Homo sapiens: one gene and its partners. The protein of the gene in region 2 purifies or fractionates together with the protein of the main gene of each other region. This does not show direct contact. Each region holds a gene or a part of one and is shown on either strand. Other genes may lie near its edges.

What was found. The genes of interacting proteins can lie anywhere in the genome.
Region 1: the proteins of MORC1 (region 2) and GMEB1 purify together in Homo sapiens (affinity purification with mass spectrometry; 2 studies listed by BioGRID and IntAct, with this or other methods). This does not show direct contact.
Region 3: the proteins of MORC1 (region 2) and HERC1 purify together in Homo sapiens (affinity purification with mass spectrometry; 3 studies listed by BioGRID and IntAct, with this or other methods). This does not show direct contact.

The regions. Positions count from the first base shown.
Region 1 is NC_000001.11:28,713,762-28,719,863, reverse strand, and holds the end of GMEB1 (glucocorticoid modulatory element-binding protein 1), read right to left. Parts: intron 5,792-6,102; coding exon 5,091-5,791; 3' UTR 511-5,090; downstream 1-510. UniProt on the Homo sapiens protein: Trans-acting factor that binds to glucocorticoid modulatory elements (GME) present in the TAT (tyrosine aminotransferase) promoter and increases sensitivity to low concentrations of glucocorticoids. Also binds to the transferrin receptor promoter.
Region 2 is NC_000003.12:109,108,122-109,115,153, forward strand, and holds part of MORC1 (MORC family CW-type zinc finger protein 1), read right to left. Parts: intron 6,317-7,032; coding exon 6,263-6,316; intron 2,668-6,262; exon of another isoform or gene 2,663-2,667; coding exon 2,628-2,662; intron 2,220-2,627; exon of another isoform or gene 1,848-2,219; intron 1,729-1,847; exon of another isoform or gene 1,643-1,728; intron 1-1,642. UniProt on the Homo sapiens protein: Required for spermatogenesis. Essential for de novo DNA methylation and silencing of transposable elements in the male embryonic germ cells.
Region 3 is NC_000015.10:63,608,108-63,613,970, reverse strand, and holds the end of HERC1 (probable E3 ubiquitin-protein ligase HERC1), read left to right. Parts: intron 1-1,414; coding exon 1,415-1,720; intron 1,721-4,704; coding exon 4,705-4,890; 3' UTR 4,891-5,353; downstream 5,354-5,863. UniProt on the Homo sapiens protein: Involved in membrane trafficking via some guanine nucleotide exchange factor (GEF) activity and its ability to bind clathrin. Acts as a GEF for Arf and Rab, by exchanging bound GDP for free GTP.

The DNA of each region.
Region 1 (6,102 bases), on a different chromosome or scaffold from region 2:
GGCAGCACATTTCAGACTACACAAAAATTTCCCAGGGAGGATTTCCCAGGGAGGAACTAACCTGGAGTAAGGGATGTGCTGCACCTCCAGGGAAGTGATCAATTGTACTAGGAAAGTTGTCTCAAAATGCAGGAGCTAGGCTAGTGTATGACATTATGTCTCAGAGAGGACGAGTTCCTCAAACTGCCCAAGGTGAATCACAACCTCATGCCGATTTTCAGAATTCAACCTTTCCTTTGTCCTTTCCACCTCTCTGATAGTACTAAAACCTGGATGCTATAACTCAACTACTAATTCCACATTTCATGCTTGACTTTTACTATCTTTATAATCAACACTCTCCACCATAGTCTTACCTTTAATGCCTTTCATGAAATGGGATAAAATGCTACCACTAGTGGGTGTCAGAACCACCTGAACTGAATATTAATTTTCCAGATGTTTGGATTAACATTGGTCCTCCTTCCCTAATAAGGACAGAGGTGCAAAAGAACCTTCATATGAAGTGGCTTTGAATCTTGAATATTCATGTTTATTGTCCATTTTTTACTTCAGAATGACTGGTGTTTTTAGGAGTGGGTGGAGCTTGGAAATTGAGAAAGGGAAGAGAACAAGGCAGGGACCAAACAGGGACATGGCCAAGACAAGACAGTTGTACAGCTGACTCTCAGGCCTTCGTGGAAACCATATGGCAGGAAGGCTTTGGGGGCATTTACCCTTTGCCAGCTAGACTCCAGTCCTGCACTGGATTCAACACTGGATCCCATCTGATGGAAACTTGGAGAAGCCCATGCATGACTCAGCGTTCTCCAGTGGGGAGACTGCCCATGTTGCTGACTCTGCCTTGCTTTGCAGGCAGAAGCAAGAGACTGAAGACTTTTTCTCTAGAATAAATAAGCCCAATTACTTGAAAATCAAGTAGTACAATAAACCTAGCCAAAAGTGGTCTCTCCTAAATCAGCTTAGGTATATGCCTTCTCCAGGAAGATCTCCCTTATTTGCTGACCCCACCTCTACACCGCTAAGCTGGGTTAGGCACTTCATGCTTTGTTCTCTCAGCTCCTAGCCAATAGCCCTATCACACACAGCACTTACGCAGTAGGATCTGTTTCAGTACCTCAGTAAAGGAGAGCTGCTTGTTTGTGCCTTTGGCAGTCTGCTGAAACCTATGAACCAATTCTTAAATAATGTTTTTCAATGCATAAAATACATAAAATTACAAAAAAAAACAATTATAATGAAATGTGTAGTTTTGGTTTTCTGAGCTGGGGATGTTGCCCTGTTACCTGGGCTAGAGTACAGTGGCAAAGTCATAGCTCACTACAGCCTTGAACTCCTAGGCCCAAGCAAAATCCTCTTGCCTCAGCATCCTGAGTAATTGTGTCTACAAGTGCGAGCCACAAGACTTGACTAATTTTTACATTTTTTTATAGAGATGGGGTCTGGCTATGTTGACCAGGCTAGTCTTAAACTCTTGGCCTCAAGCAATTCTGCCTCAGCTTCTGAAAGTGCTGGGATTCTAGGTGTGAGCCACCATGCCTGGCTGAAATATGTATTTCTTAACTCCAGACATCTGGAGTATGAATTCCTTAAGTGCAAGGACTATGTCTTCATCTCTCTACTGTCAGTGCCTAGCACAAAGCCTGGCACATAGATGGTTCTTAAAAATGTTTATTCAATGCATGAACAGAAAGACAAATGCCTACTACCAAGTCAGCCTAAGGTTCATTGCAACTGCTTATGCACATACCAATGGCTTGCATATGTCTCACCCCATCTAGGATCATCTAGACCAGGGCTGTAAGGGAACCTACATTCAACAACAGGTGCCATAATATCTAACAATAATGACAGGCTATTGGAAGACCAGGAAAACAACAAAGCTCATGTATTTCACCAGCTGGAAAATTCATCTAGTAAACAGGCTGTTTGAGGAAATCTCTTGACATTGGAAGCATGATGCACACACGACCTTAAAACCCTACCAATAGCTCTGATGGAGGAAAGAAGGGAACCTGAGCTAGCACGTTGGTATTCACGAGGGCTCTTCTGTCCTGAATTGGTCCTCTCATCTCTGGGAAAGAGAAAAGTGTCCCTAAAAACCACAATAGGGATGAGATGTGCCTTCCTAGATTCAAGTAGATTCAGTCTGAGACAGCAATTTTGTTTTTATGTACCAACAGAAAACCTAAACAAGCAGGAAATAAAAGCTACTTCCCTCACTAAAGATATATTAAGGGCCAAATATTTGTTCTAAATTGATTGCTAAGTCTATTAGATATTTTGAAAAGAAAAATAAAACCCCAGACTATTTAAAAACTGAAATCTACAACTGTATGGAGTTCATAAATCTCATTCTTAAGAGTCACCTTCAGGCTGGGTGCGGTGGCTCATGCCTGTAATCCCAACACTTTGGGAGGCCAAGGCGGGCGGATCGCTTGAGGTCAGGAGTTCAAGACCAGCCTGGCCAACATGGCAAAACCCCGTCTCTACTAAAAATACAAAAATTACCCGGGCGTGGTGGTGGGAGCCTGTAATCCCAGCTACTCAGGAGGCTGAGGCAGGAGAATCACTTGAACCAAGGAGGCGGAGGTTGCAGTGAGCTGAGATCACACCATTGCACTCCAGCCTGGGCTACAGAGCAAGACTCCATCTCAAAAAGAAAAAAAAAAAAAAAACAGCAACCTTACCATGTTACAGGGTTTCTTTGACTACATACAGCCATCTGAGGGATGGAGAATGCAACTTTTACTTGCTCGATGGGGTTTCCAACATCTGTTGGAAGAAACATGGCTTCTGAAAGGTGCCTTCTTAAAAATAAAAAAGAAAAAAAAAAACTACAGGTCCAAGTTTTGTTTTTAATAAAAATATTCCTCCCACTCTTAAGGTGTGTGCTTTCTTTTTTGACCTATTTTTCCTTAAATTTGTCTGTAGTTTCCCTGTATCTCTATATTTTTCCTAGTGCAGTAAACAATGCAATCAAAGAAATAAAAACCAGGGTCCACTCTTGCCCCAAACACTGAAGAGGGTCAAAGAGAAGAAATCGCAGCACGGAAAATGGCCCAGCTCTAAATATACAAACAACATTAAAAACAAAACAAAACAAAATAACCCCCCCCCCCAAAGCATTATTATTGACATTCCTGGTACATTTCCTATAATATAATGTTGCAGACAATGCTTCTTTCCCAGGGAGTCCAGCTCACTCAAGAGACATCTAGTTGGTGCCTCAGGAAAGCCTGGGGGTGTTGAGTCCTCTCTGCCAAGCCTAAAGCTTTTTATGATCTCAGTATCTCACAGAAACATCTGTGGTATAAATGAATCTAAAAGGGGACGAAGGCAGGCAGGCACCTGTCACTGTTCTCCAAATCAGCCAAAAAGCTGAAGAGCGTGGGTTCTAGGAGACAGATGCCATTAAGAGTTGAGGGATGGAGGGCAGAACAAGAGGAAGCACCAAATGAGTGGCTGCTTTGGGTTCCAAAGCCAAAAAAATGGCCCCACCAAAAAAGGCAGCTGGTTTCATTGAGGAACTCCCTGCTCTTGGAGCCATGCAATGAAAATGATGGCCTTGGAGCCCCATCCCTGTGACAGCCACAGTCTAAGAACCAGAGCCATTTACATCACATTGCACAGTTTCAAATGAATGGACTGGTCCTAGCTTAGGAGGGTGAGTGCTTTGACAAAGTGTGGAACAAGGTAAGCTATTACCTTGAACCCCAAAGCACAGCTGCAGCATCCTTGGCTTTCCATTTCTTTCTTTTTTTTTGAGACGGAGTTTCACTCCTCGCCCAGGCTAGAGTGCAATGGCATGATCTCAGCTCACTGCAACCTCCGCCTCCCAGGTTCAAGCAATTCTCCTGCCTCAGCCTCCCAAGTAGCTGGGATTACAGGCGCGTGCCACCATGCCCAGCTAATTTTTTTTTTTTGTATTTTCAGTAGAGACGGGGTTTCACCATGTTGGCCAGGCTGGCCTCAAACTCCTGACCTCAGGTGATTCACCCACCTCGGCCTCCCAAAGTGCTGGGATTACAGGCATGAGCCACCGCACCCGGCCTTGGCTTTCCATTTCTGCAAAACCACAGGCCACTGCTGCCACTTGCTCTGTGGAGATGTACCTTCCACTTATTACCACCTTCTTCTCAAAATGGCACTCACGGTACTAACTTTTGGAGATCTCCAGAGGCGTCAGTTGCACCTCTGGAAGTAAGATGATTTCCCTGCCCCATACTTGCCAAAGCACTTTTTTTTTTTTTTTTTTTTGAGATGGAGTCTCGCTCTTGTTGCCCAGGCTGGAGTGCAGTGGTGCGATCTTGGCTCACTGCAACCTCTGCCTTCCCAGGTTCAAGCGATTCTCCTGCCTTGGCCTCCTGAATAGCTGGGATTACAGGCTCCCGCCACCACACCCGGCTAATTTTTTTTTCGTATTTTTAGTAGATACGGGGTTTCACCATGTTGGCCAGGCTGGTCTCAAACTCCTGACCTCGTGATCCACCCGCCTCGGCCTCCCAAAGTGCTGGGATTGCAGGCGTGAGCCACCACGCCCGGCTAGCACTTCCCTTTTTAAGCTAGTGCTGGCATGCCACCTTCCCCTCAAAGCAGAGTCAACTTCCTTTTGTTTGAGAGTTTTGTACTGGCCTCTGTAGGCCCTTTTCAGGATACAAAATAAAGTGCCCTTCAGCATCCACATGCGAGTGGGTTGCCTTCCAGTGTCAGATCTGTGTTCCAGAGTTTGGTCAATGCATCTTTACAAGAATAAAACCACATGCCTACACACACAGACGAGCCTGGAAATGGCTTTCTGGACAGGGTTACTTGTTATCTTGACACTTCCCCTAAAAGAAATTACTTTCTTGGTGTAAGATGATTAGGACATTGAATGACCTACTCTCAACTTCTGGAAGGGCAGCTTGTTTTGTCCATTTTTCAATGAGGGAGTGGGAAGAACCCAACATTTTCAGTTACAACAATAAGATTTTGTTTTTTTTTTTTTAAAAAAGGGTCCTATGTGGAAATGAGTGGGACAATGATAAAAATAAACAAATAATTAAAATTCCAAATCAAAACATAACTCCTGGCCCTGAGATCCCCAGTTAATCCTCTAAGACCACAATCTCCACATTGTGAACTTGATGCTGGTGTTCTTCCATCTCAGCCACAACTTTCTCCTCAGTCCTCAGCTCTGTCTCCAAGATGACTGCTTTGCCCTCAGTATCTTCAGCTTCTGGGTCCGGGGCTGGATCAATCTCAATGATGGTCTGCCCATCCTCTGAGGTGCTTTCAACAGCCTGAATTGCCGAGGTTAGGCCGGACTCCATGGCCACCAATTCCACAGGGCTAACCATGGTGGTCATGTTGCCCAGTGTACTCCCATCCTGCATGGCAGTAGAGCTCAGCAGCGCCAAGCTAGATGAAGGGTGGATGGTCACTGTGTCTGGTGAGCTGCTCTTGGCAGAGGAGACCACTGTGGCATAGCGGAAGAGCTGAGGGCCAGAAGGCAGTGTGTGGACAGTCACAGGACTGGAGCCCTGGCTGAGGGTGGCCACTGGAATATTGCCCATGGAAAATGACTGACCCACTGGGGTGATGGTGATGGGTGAGATGACTGTGAACTGAGGCTGCTGGACAGGAGGAGAAGGGCTCAAGACAGTGGTGGAGGCTGGCCGCTGGAGCCGGGGCCTTTTTGGAGGCTTAGGAGTGCTCACAGGCATCAGTACCACATTTTGAACTGTCTGAGATTTCAGCCTGTGATCCTGGCCTTGCTTCTTCTGCTCCTCCAACTGGCGTTCCAAGTCTATGGAAAAAAAGAAAAGACTTTGTGTAGAGGGAAGTAAAATCTTGGGAGCATTAAACTGAGAGTCAGGAGACCTGGTGTCTCTGTCTGGTTTTGTTACTAAGTAGCTTCAGGCAAGTTGTGACATTGTTTTCTTTCTTGTGCTTATTTGGGGGGCAGAGTCTTGTTATGTTGCCTAGGCTGGAGGGTAGTGGCTATTCACAGGTGCTATCATTGCGCACTATAGCCTCGAACTTCTGGCCTCAAGCGATCCACCCACCTCACCTTCCCAAAGTGTTGGGATTACAGGCATAAGCCAGTGCACCCAGCTG
Region 2 (7,032 bases):
GAGGTTGCAATGAGCCGAGATGGTGCCACTGCACTCCAGCCTGGGCAACAGAGTGAGACTCCATCTCGAAAAAAAAGGAGAAGTGCCACTTTAATCTCAACTTGGTCAAGATCTTATTTTGTTTGTTTATGAAGATAAACTGAGTACTTAGAGAAAGTAGGGTGAAATAAACACTCTCATTCCCTGCTGGTCTCCAGTCACAAACCCCAAAGAACATAATGCGTGGATTCTGATTACATTTGTTATATTTTGTGACTATGGATAAGTCTTCTCAATCCTCCATCAATTGTGCATGTGCTCTGAATGAAAGGCAGCTTACATCTGTCTCTCCTCCTCCATTTCTAGTACTACTGCCCTATTATAATTCTCATGAAATCTTGCCTAGGTAATTCCCATAGCCATACCTCCCTGCTATCCTTGCTTTCATACTTCTCCAGACTCTCTTGTAAGGTATTTCTGGAATGAGTATCTTTCTTTAAAAAAGAAAAGAGCTCAGCCAGGCGCGGTGGCTCAAGCCTGTAATGCCAGCACTTTGCGAGGCCGAGGCGGGCGGATCACAAGGTCAGGAGATCAAGACCATCCTGGCTAACATGGTGAAACCCCGGCTCTACTAAAAATACAAAAAAAAATTAGCCGGGCATGGTGGCGGGCACATGTAGTCCCAGCTACTCGGTAGGCTGAGGCAGGAGAATGGTGTGAACCTGGGAGGCAGAGCTTGCAGTGAGCCGAGCTCGCGCCACTGCACTCCAGCCTGGGCGACAGAGCGAGACTCCGTCTCACAAAAAAAAAAAAAAAAGACCACATGTCTACTTAGAAAACTGACACTGCTCAAAGTTCTTCAGTGGTCCACTGACTGCAGAAAAAACCTTGGTATGGTATTGAAGATGCTCATTCATTTGGTTCTGACACTTAGTGCGAGTCAACCGAGCCTCAGCATTGTTCCCTGAGTGCTTTTTCACCAGACATCTGTGTGGCTCCCTCCCTTTCATCATTCAGGTCTTTGCTTGTGTGTTAGCTATTTAAAGAAACCCTCTTAGACCACCCATGAAAAGCTGTATACCCCTTCCATGGCTCTCTGTTCTCTTATCCTGCTTTATTTTTTTCCCTTTTAGCACTTATCATTGCCTTGTATATTACATATTTGTTCATTTCTGTATTGTCTATCTCTCCCCATTAGGATATATGTTCCAGGGGAACAAAGACCTCAACATTTTTCTCAGTGCACTATCCCCAGTACCTAGAATAATAGACAACAAATTATTACTGAATAAATTAATGAATCTGTGAACTAGCCTATCTCCATTTGTTTTCTCATAATTATTACCTAGACAGGAATATTCTTTTCTTCCTGGAGTATCTGACAAAAATCACATTCATATTTCAAGCTCTAGCCCCTTAATATGAGGCATAATTTCTTCTTTCCCTGTGTTCCCACCATACTCTGAGTCTCTCCTATGCAAGAGTGTTCATCTTATTTTACTCTATTGGATATGGAAGGGAAGATGACTTTTTCTCACTAGAAAGGCCCTATTCTGTGCCTTCACTCACTTTTCCCCTGTGGAGGTTAGCTCACTCACCTACTGGTCACTTAGGGAAGAATAAACTGGGGAGGCTCAGTTCTGACCCTGCATTTTCCTCCTAGGAGAGAGCTGCCTGCAGAGAGCGTGAGTCCTGATCCCTTGTCCCAGGGCAAAAGAGTTTCAGAGGAAGCCCAACTCCACTGGGCGGGTGAGTCCACGTGATCCCGGGGTCTGACCTGCAAGTCCATTTGCTCTCTCACACTAAGCTACATACTCCAGCCTAACATTTATCAGCAATAAAGGCTGACTCTTTTTCTATTTCTCAAGTTTTTCAGGACCTGGAGAGGAGAAGGAGATGAAGAGTGTCATTTATTGTTTCCTCAGTTATCTCAAGAGGTCCACGTCTATCTCTCTCATGAAGCGTAAGCACTCCTCTGACTCAGAACACTCAGTTAACTGAGGTGCTTTTTAAACAGAGATATGGATTTAGATCATGGAGCATATCCTCTCACCCGTGACCAGTAGCCAATATTGCAGAACAGCTGACAGAAATGTGGTAGGGATGCTGCGTGACTACCTGGGCATTACTCTACAGAGCTGGATCACAGAACCTAACTTCATTAGCATCATAGTCTAATGAGATAACTAGTGAGTGCAATAAATACTTGATGACTACGAATAAAGTCAGCAAAGAAAACAGATTTGGTTTGGATTTTCTAGCCCTCATACCGCACATTCACGTACACACTTTGAAACTACTAAGTTGGGAATGATGTATGCTTAATTATGAATAACCGTTAATTTAATATACTTTTTAAAAATAAAACTGTTTCTCATGGCAGGCAAATTGAGTGCTCCAAATCACTCTGATACATTCACAAAACTCTGGAAGACCTAATTTTGTAAATGGGTCCTTTAGCACACAATTTGACTCTCAGAGTATACTCTCCTCACCCTGGCTCCCCACAGGGTCACTGTACCCACAAAGCACTTAGATTACATTAAAATTCTATAGAATGTGGTTTTATTTCATGAAATAAAATACAAGCAAAATAACTACAGTCTTTCCATTAGAAGAAAATAAAAGAAGAAAGCAAATCTGCTCACCTGAAAAGACATCAAGTCTTTCAGCCCCTGCATCTCTGGAAACAATACAAAAATATTATTTCTTCAATATGAAATGAATTGCTTACATAAGGTATAACCTATTGTCAGATATCAAACAATACAAAAATCCACTTAAATTGCTTCAAAATCAATTTCTAAAACGTTTCACCGTGCTATTATATCATAAGACCTATGATTAGTCATAATTTGAGAATATGAAAAAGACTGCAACTCAGAAATGTGAAAGAAGAGATGGAATTTAGTGGGAATTACACAAAAAACTAACAAAATGGATATAATTTAAAAAAAAAAAAAAAAAACAAAAAAAGCTGGCTGGCAAATAATCCAGAAGTCATGGAATGTTTTTCATATTTTAGTTCAAAAAAAAAAGAAAAATCAAATTACTAGGTAATAGTGTACTATAAGAAGACATTTTAAAGAACATACATGGAAGGAAAGAAATCAACATGTTAATAGGAGTTTTCTCTTTGTTAGAGGTTGGAAAACTATAGCCACGGACCAAAATGGCCCATCAACTGTTTGTAAATAAAGTGTTATTGGAACACAATCATGCCCATTCATTACATAGTATCTAAGGTTGCCTCAGCACTACAGTGGCAGAGTTGAGTAGTTTCAAAGGAGACCCCGTATCCCACAGAGGTGAAAATATTTGCCATCTGGTCTTTTACAGAAAAGGATGCTGACTCCTCTTCTAGGTGATGAGAGTACTGATGAAGACTGTTTTAAAAAAAATTCTCCATTTTCTAAAATTCACAGATATTATTTTTGTATTTTTTTACAATTATTTTTAAAAGTAAAATTTTTAATAGAAAAGAAGAAAAGGCCAGAAGACTCTGGCTTCAATATCGAGGGTGTGAGAGAAAGGAGGAAGGCATAGGCAAGGAAGACTTAGCTGATGAGGAAGAAGGTAAGTTAAGGCAGGGAGGAGTCTAAAAGGAAGCTCAGTGCAACAACAGCAACTATGTAACTCTGGTGGGGAAACCTGAGCGTCTCTCCAAAGTTCCATCAGTTCTAAACCCAAAACTCCCAGACAAATCTGAGTAGGTACACTGTACTTGCTCCACAGGCCTAGAAGTTAGTCCCATATAGCTCCTTCCTCTAGCCAATTGCTGCTTCTCAGCCCTCCCTATATAGACACTCTGGAGTTACCACTGCCATTTCTTGAGCACCTCCCATGTATCAAGTAAGCACTGAATGGTGTATTTTTGAAAATTCTCTTCCGATCCTTACCATAGTTCCATAACACATAGGTATCAATATCTCCATTATATAATCATGCATTATACAAAGTACCATGTACACAATAAATGTTTAATAAATGCCACTGTACTGAAATGTAAGTTTTTAAAGAGGTAGTTTTTTCATGCAGCACTTCCACGGATTAAGGCATAAAATAATTCACCTTTATCATATATTAAGACATTTTATAATAATCTTTGTTCTTTAGCCCAGGATACTTCCTTTCTGAAGAGCTATTGTATTAGGAAGAGGACCCTAACAAATCCTTCCTATATCACCACACATTCTTCTTCTCTCTCTACAATATTCTTTTAATATCTTTCAGTTCTAATTTTTAAAACTACAGGAAATCATTAAAATATTGAATACAATGATATAAAAGAATTTCTTAGAATAACATGGGGACTTCATAAAGTTCTCCTTCGTAAGACCAACTCAGTATCTTAAGTCTGTTAAATAGCTTCTTTTGATGTCAACTACTAGCATCTAAGCAATGGTGGAAAACTCAAACGTCCATGAAGAAAGAGGGACTGAAGGGTTGAGGCTGTCCACGGGGGAAAACTGGAAATGAGGCAAAGCTGAAGGCATGGGCTGGTCCCAAGAGAGCACCTGCTACTCACCTCCAGCCCCTGATCCCGTGGAGGAATGTGGCCTTGAGGTTGCTACTTCTCCTAATCTTTCAAGGAAGGCAGAGGGCCCAAATTTTTTATTTGGTATCTCCAATATCTTAAACCTTATAAACAATTCCTTTTTTCTCCCTTCCTTTTCTTTATAAACACTGTGCAAACTTTCACTATAAGCCAAACACACATAAGACAGGCTGGACCTGGTCAAGGGGCTGCCAGCTTACAAATGCTGCTCTAAGAATTAGTTTATCGATCACATTTCTCTCAGTCCCCTGAGTCTGAAGTCAATCTTTCTTTCCCAATCAACCTCTACTACATAAAATGTTTCTTTTATTCTACTTCTTCCACATTCTGATTTTACTTGTCCTCCTTTGTTGAATGAATGAAAGAAACAACTTCAAAGGAGAAAAGACAGTTGGAAAAATAGATAAATGTGTTCTTTCAGACTTGCAGATGTCAAGTTGCTGAAAGTGGGCCCATTCAGTAGGAGGCAGGACCGATGACATAGGAGGAGCCTTGCTTCCAAGCTTTGAGCAGCAGCAACAGTAGCAACCCTAAGCTCCTTTAGGGAAGCTAATCAAAAGTGTTTATCTTTCTTGGCTTCATCCTTATTAGCTCCTTCCAAGCTGAGTTCATGGCTCTGAACAAGACTTTATTCTTTTTCTCTACTTCCCTCCCTTTTTATGATTCCATTAGCTCAACAGAGAGAGTTTCCTAAAAGGAGGAGATAACGACTTTCTACTTAGTGCAGGGCAGGAATTTCTGGATGGCTGGTTAATTGACTACACTTTGTGGTCACACTCTCAGAAGGGTCATCTCCCATCTAAGGCAAAAAATGGGGAACAAATGCAAAAAAAGCTAAAACACTGTTATCAACCAGTGGCAGGGAATTTAGGCTCCTACTGAGATCCTTGATCTAACAACTGCACATTACTTCCTGGATGGACTTTGCTTTCTAAGCAAAAGGTAGGAAAAAATCTTCTGTTATGGGGAATACCAATATAAAACACGTCAAATGCTTTATTCAATTTAACTGAAAAAAAAAAAAATGAAGCCCCTCACAAGCTCCCACAAATACACTACTGAGCAGAACTTAAACTGTTTAACGGGTTCCTTAATCATTAATACATTTATTAGAGACAGTAAAATACGACAGTGAGGTTCTGCAGCCAGACTGCCCAAATTTGAATGCCAGCTCTGCCAAATATGAATTATGTGACTTTGAATAAATCATCTAATCTCTCTATGCATCAATTTCCACACATGTAGAACTAGGATATTAATTCCCATCTCAGAGTGTAGATATAAGGATGCATGACATAATGCTCATATATAAAGTGCTTATGTATGTCTGATATATAGTAAGAGATCAATAAGTTAGCTATTTTCTTAACTATACAATTTGCTTCTACGCAGACTTCAATAAATGCCCAAATACATGTGTAAATTCTCAAGACAAGTATACACTGACATATAATTCAAAAAATATCTAAATGAATATGTACAATTAAATGGTTATTAACATAAAAACAGACTTCAAGTTTGATCATAAATTAAAATTAAATAAAGGTGAATAATTATTTCTCTCAACTATCCTTTTTCCTAGAACACCTTGATTTTATAGGAAATCAAGTCACAAAACATTCCAGATGGGAAAATATGACATGATCTTTTTATCTTCCCATGTAATTAGACAAGAGTTATGTCATGAAATTCCCTCAGTAACTGTTGTTTACAGATAAACCTTACCTTGCATTGTCCAGCAATTCAGCCAGTGCTCCAAAAAGGAAACTGTGAGTGGTGCTGATGAAGAAATAAAGAGAAAACAAAAAGTTAAACCAGGTGTGTAATCAATGTAAAAGCTTTAAGATTCTTGCAGACAAACGTTCTCCAGTTCCAGACATCTAGTGAATTAAGAAGTTACTCTAGAAACAACTCTCTCAGCACGGTCAAGATTCGGAACTAGATACCCTCCATTATGAAGCGAGGGTTAAAAACACTTTTGCCAAAATATCCTGTCCACTTCTAATAAAATAAAAATTTAAGGGCCTTAGTATCTATCATTGAAATAAACTTTGACCTTTTAATATTACTTTATAAGCATGTTTTCAAGTGAGGTTTTTCCCAGAGGATTTTTCATTAAAATTGTATTATTTAAAGACAAGATATTTCTGAAGAATACTGATCAAAATCCTTGCCTACTAAAAGGCCATAAGGCTCCATGTGCAGGCAAAGGAACTGGCAGGAAGCCCTTGCGTGCCTCACCAATCTGTATTTTTCTGCAGAATCTTTCCACCGCTGAAAAGCCTGCTCCTTACATAACCTTAAAAATGGCCTCAGGTCACTTTCTCCTGTACCCTCGAATGCCAGGTCCTCGGTAACAGAATGCTCCAGACAGCCTTCAGTATTTACAACAGTTTGGAGGGTGCACAGTTATCTGAGGGTGGAATCACACTAGCTTAAGGCTCCCATGCTTGCTTCTCATGTCCTGATGAGGCATATTTCAATCAGCAACCTTA
Region 3 (5,863 bases), on a different chromosome or scaffold from region 2:
CAAGCATAACAGCTTGTTCGTTTTTGTTTTCGTTTGGCAGACTTTGGTGGGGTATTGACCTTTACTATCAGAAGAGACTGCCTTTACTGCCAATCTCTGATCCTTATGGGACAACCTTAGTGCCAGTTTTTTATTATTTTATTTTTTAAGAGAGGGTCTTGCTCTGTCACCCAGGCTGGAGTGCAGTGGCACTCACTGCAGCTTTGAACTGTTGGGCTCAAGGGATCTCCTGCCTTAGCCTTCCAAGTAGCTGGGATGACAGGGCAAACCATTGTACTTGGCCCAGTTTTTTTTTATATATATAATAAATTTTATTATGTATATTTAAGGTGTACAACACGATAATATAGGATATGCATATAGATAGTAAAAAGGTTATTATAGTGAAGCAAATTAACATATCCATCACCTCACATAGTTACTCACTTCCTTAAGGTATGGTCCCTATTCAGATTCTTAGACTTTTTAAATGGTGGTAGATGGTTTTGAGTTGGCCAAGAGCAAAGAAGTATTTATGAAACAAACCTTGAACAGTGGTGAGTCTGTGTGTAGGGTATGCACTACTGTATAATATTGGAGGAGACATTTTTCTAAACAAGCTGTCAAGGCAGCCCCTGGTTGCACCCTACTTGGCACTCCCCAACTTGCCTGTGCCCAGCACTATGATGCTAAGAGAACAGAGCAGGGTAGAATTACCCAGTCACACAGAATTTCATGTAGTTACTCATATACAGTTCTCATCAGAGCCACATGAGAGCAGCAATATCTGCTTTTTTCAGACGGAAAAATTAAGAGAGTTAATAATTGGCAGAGCTGGGAGTTAGAACCCAAGTCTCTTCACTAAATTCATTGCCTCTTCTATTGCCTTCCTAAAGAAGGACTTCCCATTTTTACTTTCTTCTTTGTACTTTTCAGATTTTTTTTACGATGAGCACAAATAATTTTTACAAAAAGGATATAATTATTTTCAAAAGACAAATATAAATTTAAAAAACAGTAGGCAGCTAGTTGAGTGCCCCCAAAGCTTCTTACCTTTATGAGATGAAGTGTCCACACATGCATAGTTTGACAGCACATGGGCACATATGATTAGGAATATGAGTGAGTGGGGCTGGCATCAGGGAAGGCCCCAGTGGGCTGAGATTTTGTGGTAGAGGGAAGGCAGGCTCCTAAATTGGACTTGAACTGGAACCAGGAGTGTAAGAATCCCACAGCAGGGAGGCACTCTAACAAGGGTTGAGAGGCAGGGAGGGTGGGCCTTTTTGACTGACTCTCGTGCCTGGCGGTCTGAGAAACAAGTAGAGGGTCTGGGGAGCGGACGAGCAGGCATCAGGAGGCGCCTAGCCCCACAGGGCCCTTGGTGGGTGCCAGGTTCACGCACACTCATTGAATGAGCAACCTCTCCCGGGAGCAGGTGGCTGCAGTCCGAGAAGGGATGTCCTGGATTGTTCCTGTGCCGCTGCTGTCCCTCCTCACAGCAAAACAACTGGAGCAGATGGTGTGTGGGATGCCCGAGATCTCTGTGGAAGTCTTGAAGAAAGTGGTGCGGTACCGTGAGGTGGATGAGCAGCATCAGCTGGTGCAGTGGTTCTGGCACACGCTGGAAGAGTTCTCCAATGAGGAGCGGGTGCTTTTCATGAGGTTTGTGTCAGGAAGATCTCGACTACCAGCCAACACTGCTGACATTTCTCAGAGATTTCAAATCATGAAGGTTGATAGGGTAAGTAAGCTATTCTTTTTTCCTTTGTAATGTCTGCCTTATTGCTTCATTGTTGTTTTTGTTGAGACAGGGTCTCACTCTGTGGCCCAGGCTGGAGTGCAGTGGCATGATTTTAGCTTACTGCAACCTCCGCTTCCTAGCTTCAAGCAGTTCTCCTGCCTCAGCCTCCGCAGTAGCTGGGACTACAGGTGCGTGCCACCACGCCTGGCTAATTTTTTTGTATATTTTGGTAGAGACGGGGATTCACCATGTTGGCCAGGCTGGTCTTGAACTACTGACCTCAGGTGATCTGGTCACGTTGGCCTCCCAAAGTGCTGGGATTACAGGCGTGAGCCAACACGCCTGGCCCTCTGCGCCTTGTTGCTTTTATGTTGGGGAAAACAAACTATGACCCTCAAGTAGGCCTGCCGATTCATGCTTATTAATACTTAGAATTTCCAGATTAATGAAAAAAATCAAGCAGTAAAATTTGTTTAGAAATATCATTTAGCTTCAGTGGGAAGAGTCCTAAGTGGATGAAGAGAGCATACTACAACCAACAACCTTCCCTAAATCTTCCAGCATCTTCCTGAGTTAAAGCTGAACTTGGCAGAAGGATCATCATACTGCCTCTTCCTGTGCTGAGGCATGGCCTTGTTTGTTTTCATGAAAATATTAACCATTAACTGGTGGGTGTGCCCCAGAAGGAACCCAAAGATGTGGGGAGCAACGATAACCTCTGTGCCCACTTGTGTTGTGTGCCTTGTGGAGCAGGCAGGGCTGCATCTCTGCCATCTGATGAAAGGCCCCAGCTGCAGAGCCCCAGCCCAGCTGTGATTTTGACAGATGGCTTAGGAATAAGAGGGCTTAGAGTCTGAAAAGCACACTGCTGCCAGAGTCATCTTTCTTAAGCACCTGTCTGACCATGTCACTCTCCTCCTTTTAGACCTTTCAGAGACCCCCTTTGTTGACTCCGAAATAAATGCCAATGACCTTAGCTGCCTTAAACACTTCCACAGTCTGGCCTCTGCCCCACTTTCTGATGTGACGTCTTGATACTTCTCATGTTCTGGTCATAATGGGCTGCTTGCCTTTCTCCCCAGTAGACCAGGCTGTTTTTAAAATTCTGTGCTTTTATGTAACCTGTTCCCTCTGCTTTAGTAAGTCCTTCTTCACACCCCTTTCCTTCTATCTCTGGCAAGCACTTACTCATCCTATAAGCCCAATGCCAGTCATCTCCTCCAAGAACCCCTCCTAGATGCTTTCCAGGAGTGCCCCTACCATTGCTGAAGGCAGACCTAGCCAGACTCCTTCTCTCCACCTCCTGAACACTGGGTACAGCCCTCAAACCCAGAACTTACTGCATTCAGTTAGGAGTGCCTCTCCTCCCTCTGTCTCCATCCCCACTCTTCACAAGCCCTCTCTCCCACATGAGCTGGGCAGTTCTCTGAGCAGGGCCCATGATGTTTGTTCAGAAAACAGTAAGGGAAGTGGGGCCTCTTCACACACAGGCCCTTCCTGCCAGTTTAAGTGTCTGGCTTTCTGGTGTAGCCAAAGCTATTCCTCCCTGTGCTGCCTCCTGAGGCTGCAGGCTGCTGCTCTGCTCCTGGGCTAGGCTTGCTGGAGAAGCCACGTGCAGGAAGGATTATAAAAGAGCCTTTCCATAAATTTTCTGCATGACTTGCCAAGAACTGTAAGTTGTAAATCTGTTTTGTTGCTTCAGAGAGAAGTAGGAAGGAGGAAATGGCTCATTTCTACTCAGCTCTGGAAACAACCCTTGCCTTATATCTGTCCTGGGCTACTCCTGCCGTTCTAGGAGTTAATCCACCACTAATCTCCGGTCTCAGGGTTGTCAGCATCAGTAACTGACTACCGTGGTCGGTTCCTCTGTGGCTTTTAGATCATTTCTACAGTACTCACATTTAGGTCATCAGAGCCACCTAGTGGCACCTCCCTTCCTTGCTGCTTTCAGTTTTTCTGCGTTGAGCTGTGTCATCACTGGCTCTGGTGCATTTGGGCTGCTGGGCCATCCACCTCCCATAGCAGGACATGTGGCTTACCTAGGTGTGGGCTCTGGGGAGGAGGGCTGATTTCAAGAGGAGGTTGAGTGAGAGAAGACAGGTTCTTTTTTTTTTTTTTAAGCAAACGTTTTAAAAATTTATAAAAACACTATAATGCCATTACTATTATTACAAATTGTTTAGAAAATAGTTATGTTTGCAAGGAGGGATAGGGAACGTATATAATCCTGTCTCTCCAGTAGTAGCTATTTTTACCTTTGTGAAATTCCTCATAGTCTTTGCCTCAATTGTACAAATTTTTATATGATGTATCTAGAATTTTTTCTGCCTTTAACCTCCTAATGTATCCTGAACACCTTTCTGTTTTGCTGCCAGTCATCATAATTATCATTTTAAATGATGCATCACCGTCAGTTGAATGGATGGACTGGAGTTTAATTGACTGCCCCTTCCTTATGTGAGCTGTGCGAGGCAGCCATGGCGCCTGCAAAGGAGGCAGAATGCACATGAGGACAGGGAGAGGAGAGGGGGCAAAGAGGCTCCCATGGCCAGCTGCACCTCACAGTCGTTCTTTCCATTCTACCTGCTCTGTGGGGGCATCCCTGCAGCTGGCTTCCAGTCTGCACCCTCTTGGTGGATGGGTATGAAGGACAGGTGCCCTCTTACTACACTCTCATCCTGTGCCAGGCGCTGTGCGTAGTGTATTCTCTCAAGCAATCCTGCCAGTCAGAGCTTCTCCTCACTTTACACACACAGGCACTGGAGGAGGTGAGGACAAGAAGGAACATCTTCACCCAGAGCCTCGAGGGCCACGGGGCAGTAGGGCCTCAGCTCATTCTATCTGGCCCAGTCTCTGTGTCCACTTGACTTAACCATGTGGCCATGTTAATTCCATCTTGAAGGCAGGGAGAGGTCATGGGCAGCCCCACTCCCCCTTATGGCACTCTGATGTCCCCAGTCACGGCTCTGGGTCTCTCTCCACAGCCTTACGACAGTCTGCCTACCTCACAGACCTGCTTCTTCCAGCTGAGGCTGCCCCCGTACTCCAGCCAGCTGGTCATGGCCGAGCGCCTGCGCTATGCCATCAACAACTGCCGCTCAATCGACATGGACAACTACATGCTCTCGAGAAACGTGGACAACGCCGAGGGCTCCGACACTGACTACTGACCGTGCGGGTGCTCTCACCCTCCCTTCTCTCCCTCAATAATGCTCACTTCTGATTTGATGTTGATATACTTTTATGGTAACTACATAGATGTTATAAGAACATAAACCAACATTATAAACAATGGCCACATTTAGTTACTCTAAATGTAACAAAGAAATTAGATGTTTTTATTTTTCTGTGATTGTACAAAAACAACAAAAACGAAGTGCTCTCAGTCAGGTTTTTCCCTCCATATTTTTGGTCACTTTTGATAAGTTTGCATGAAACCATTTTGGTGCATTTTTAGTTGGGAATGGTACATTTTTGTAAATCCACCCAGTGAACATGAAATTGTACATTGTGTATAATTGTTCATTAGAAAGGACAGTTTTACATGAATATTCATATATTTATTTTGTTTTAATTTGAATTGCCTGTTCAGGGTTCCTTATGCAGAGAAATAAAGCAGATTCAGGAATTGGAGCGTGGCTCTTGGTATTGCTTCCTGCGGAGCTTCTGACTAGGGGTTACCATCGAGGCAGACATTAGCCCAGAACAGAATGAGCTTCCAGGCTGGTCTTGCTCTGATGGCTTTTTGACCCATTCAGAAACATTTCTTTACATTGAGGGTGGGCTTCACTTGGAAATAACGTATCAGAGAACCGTGTGGTTCTAGGAGATCCCTCTGGGTTGGAAGCCCCTATTTTCCATTGTTCTTCTGTCATCCTGGGTCTCTCTGACTTTGTTCCCTCAGCTGCTCCGCCCCTCTCAGTACCACGCATCCTTCTCTGGACAGCCCCAGCTACCTCATGTGGAGGGCGACTCTACCAGACAAGGAGGAAGAGGACCACAGTAATGCCATCTGGCCCTTCCTATGAAGAACCTACAAAGACAAAATGAGCACGTGATGGAATTAAAGAACAGGGTAGTTTACAACATGTCTCAGTGGGGAGGGCAGCCAAGTGGAAGGTGTTACAGAAAGGCCAGCAACTG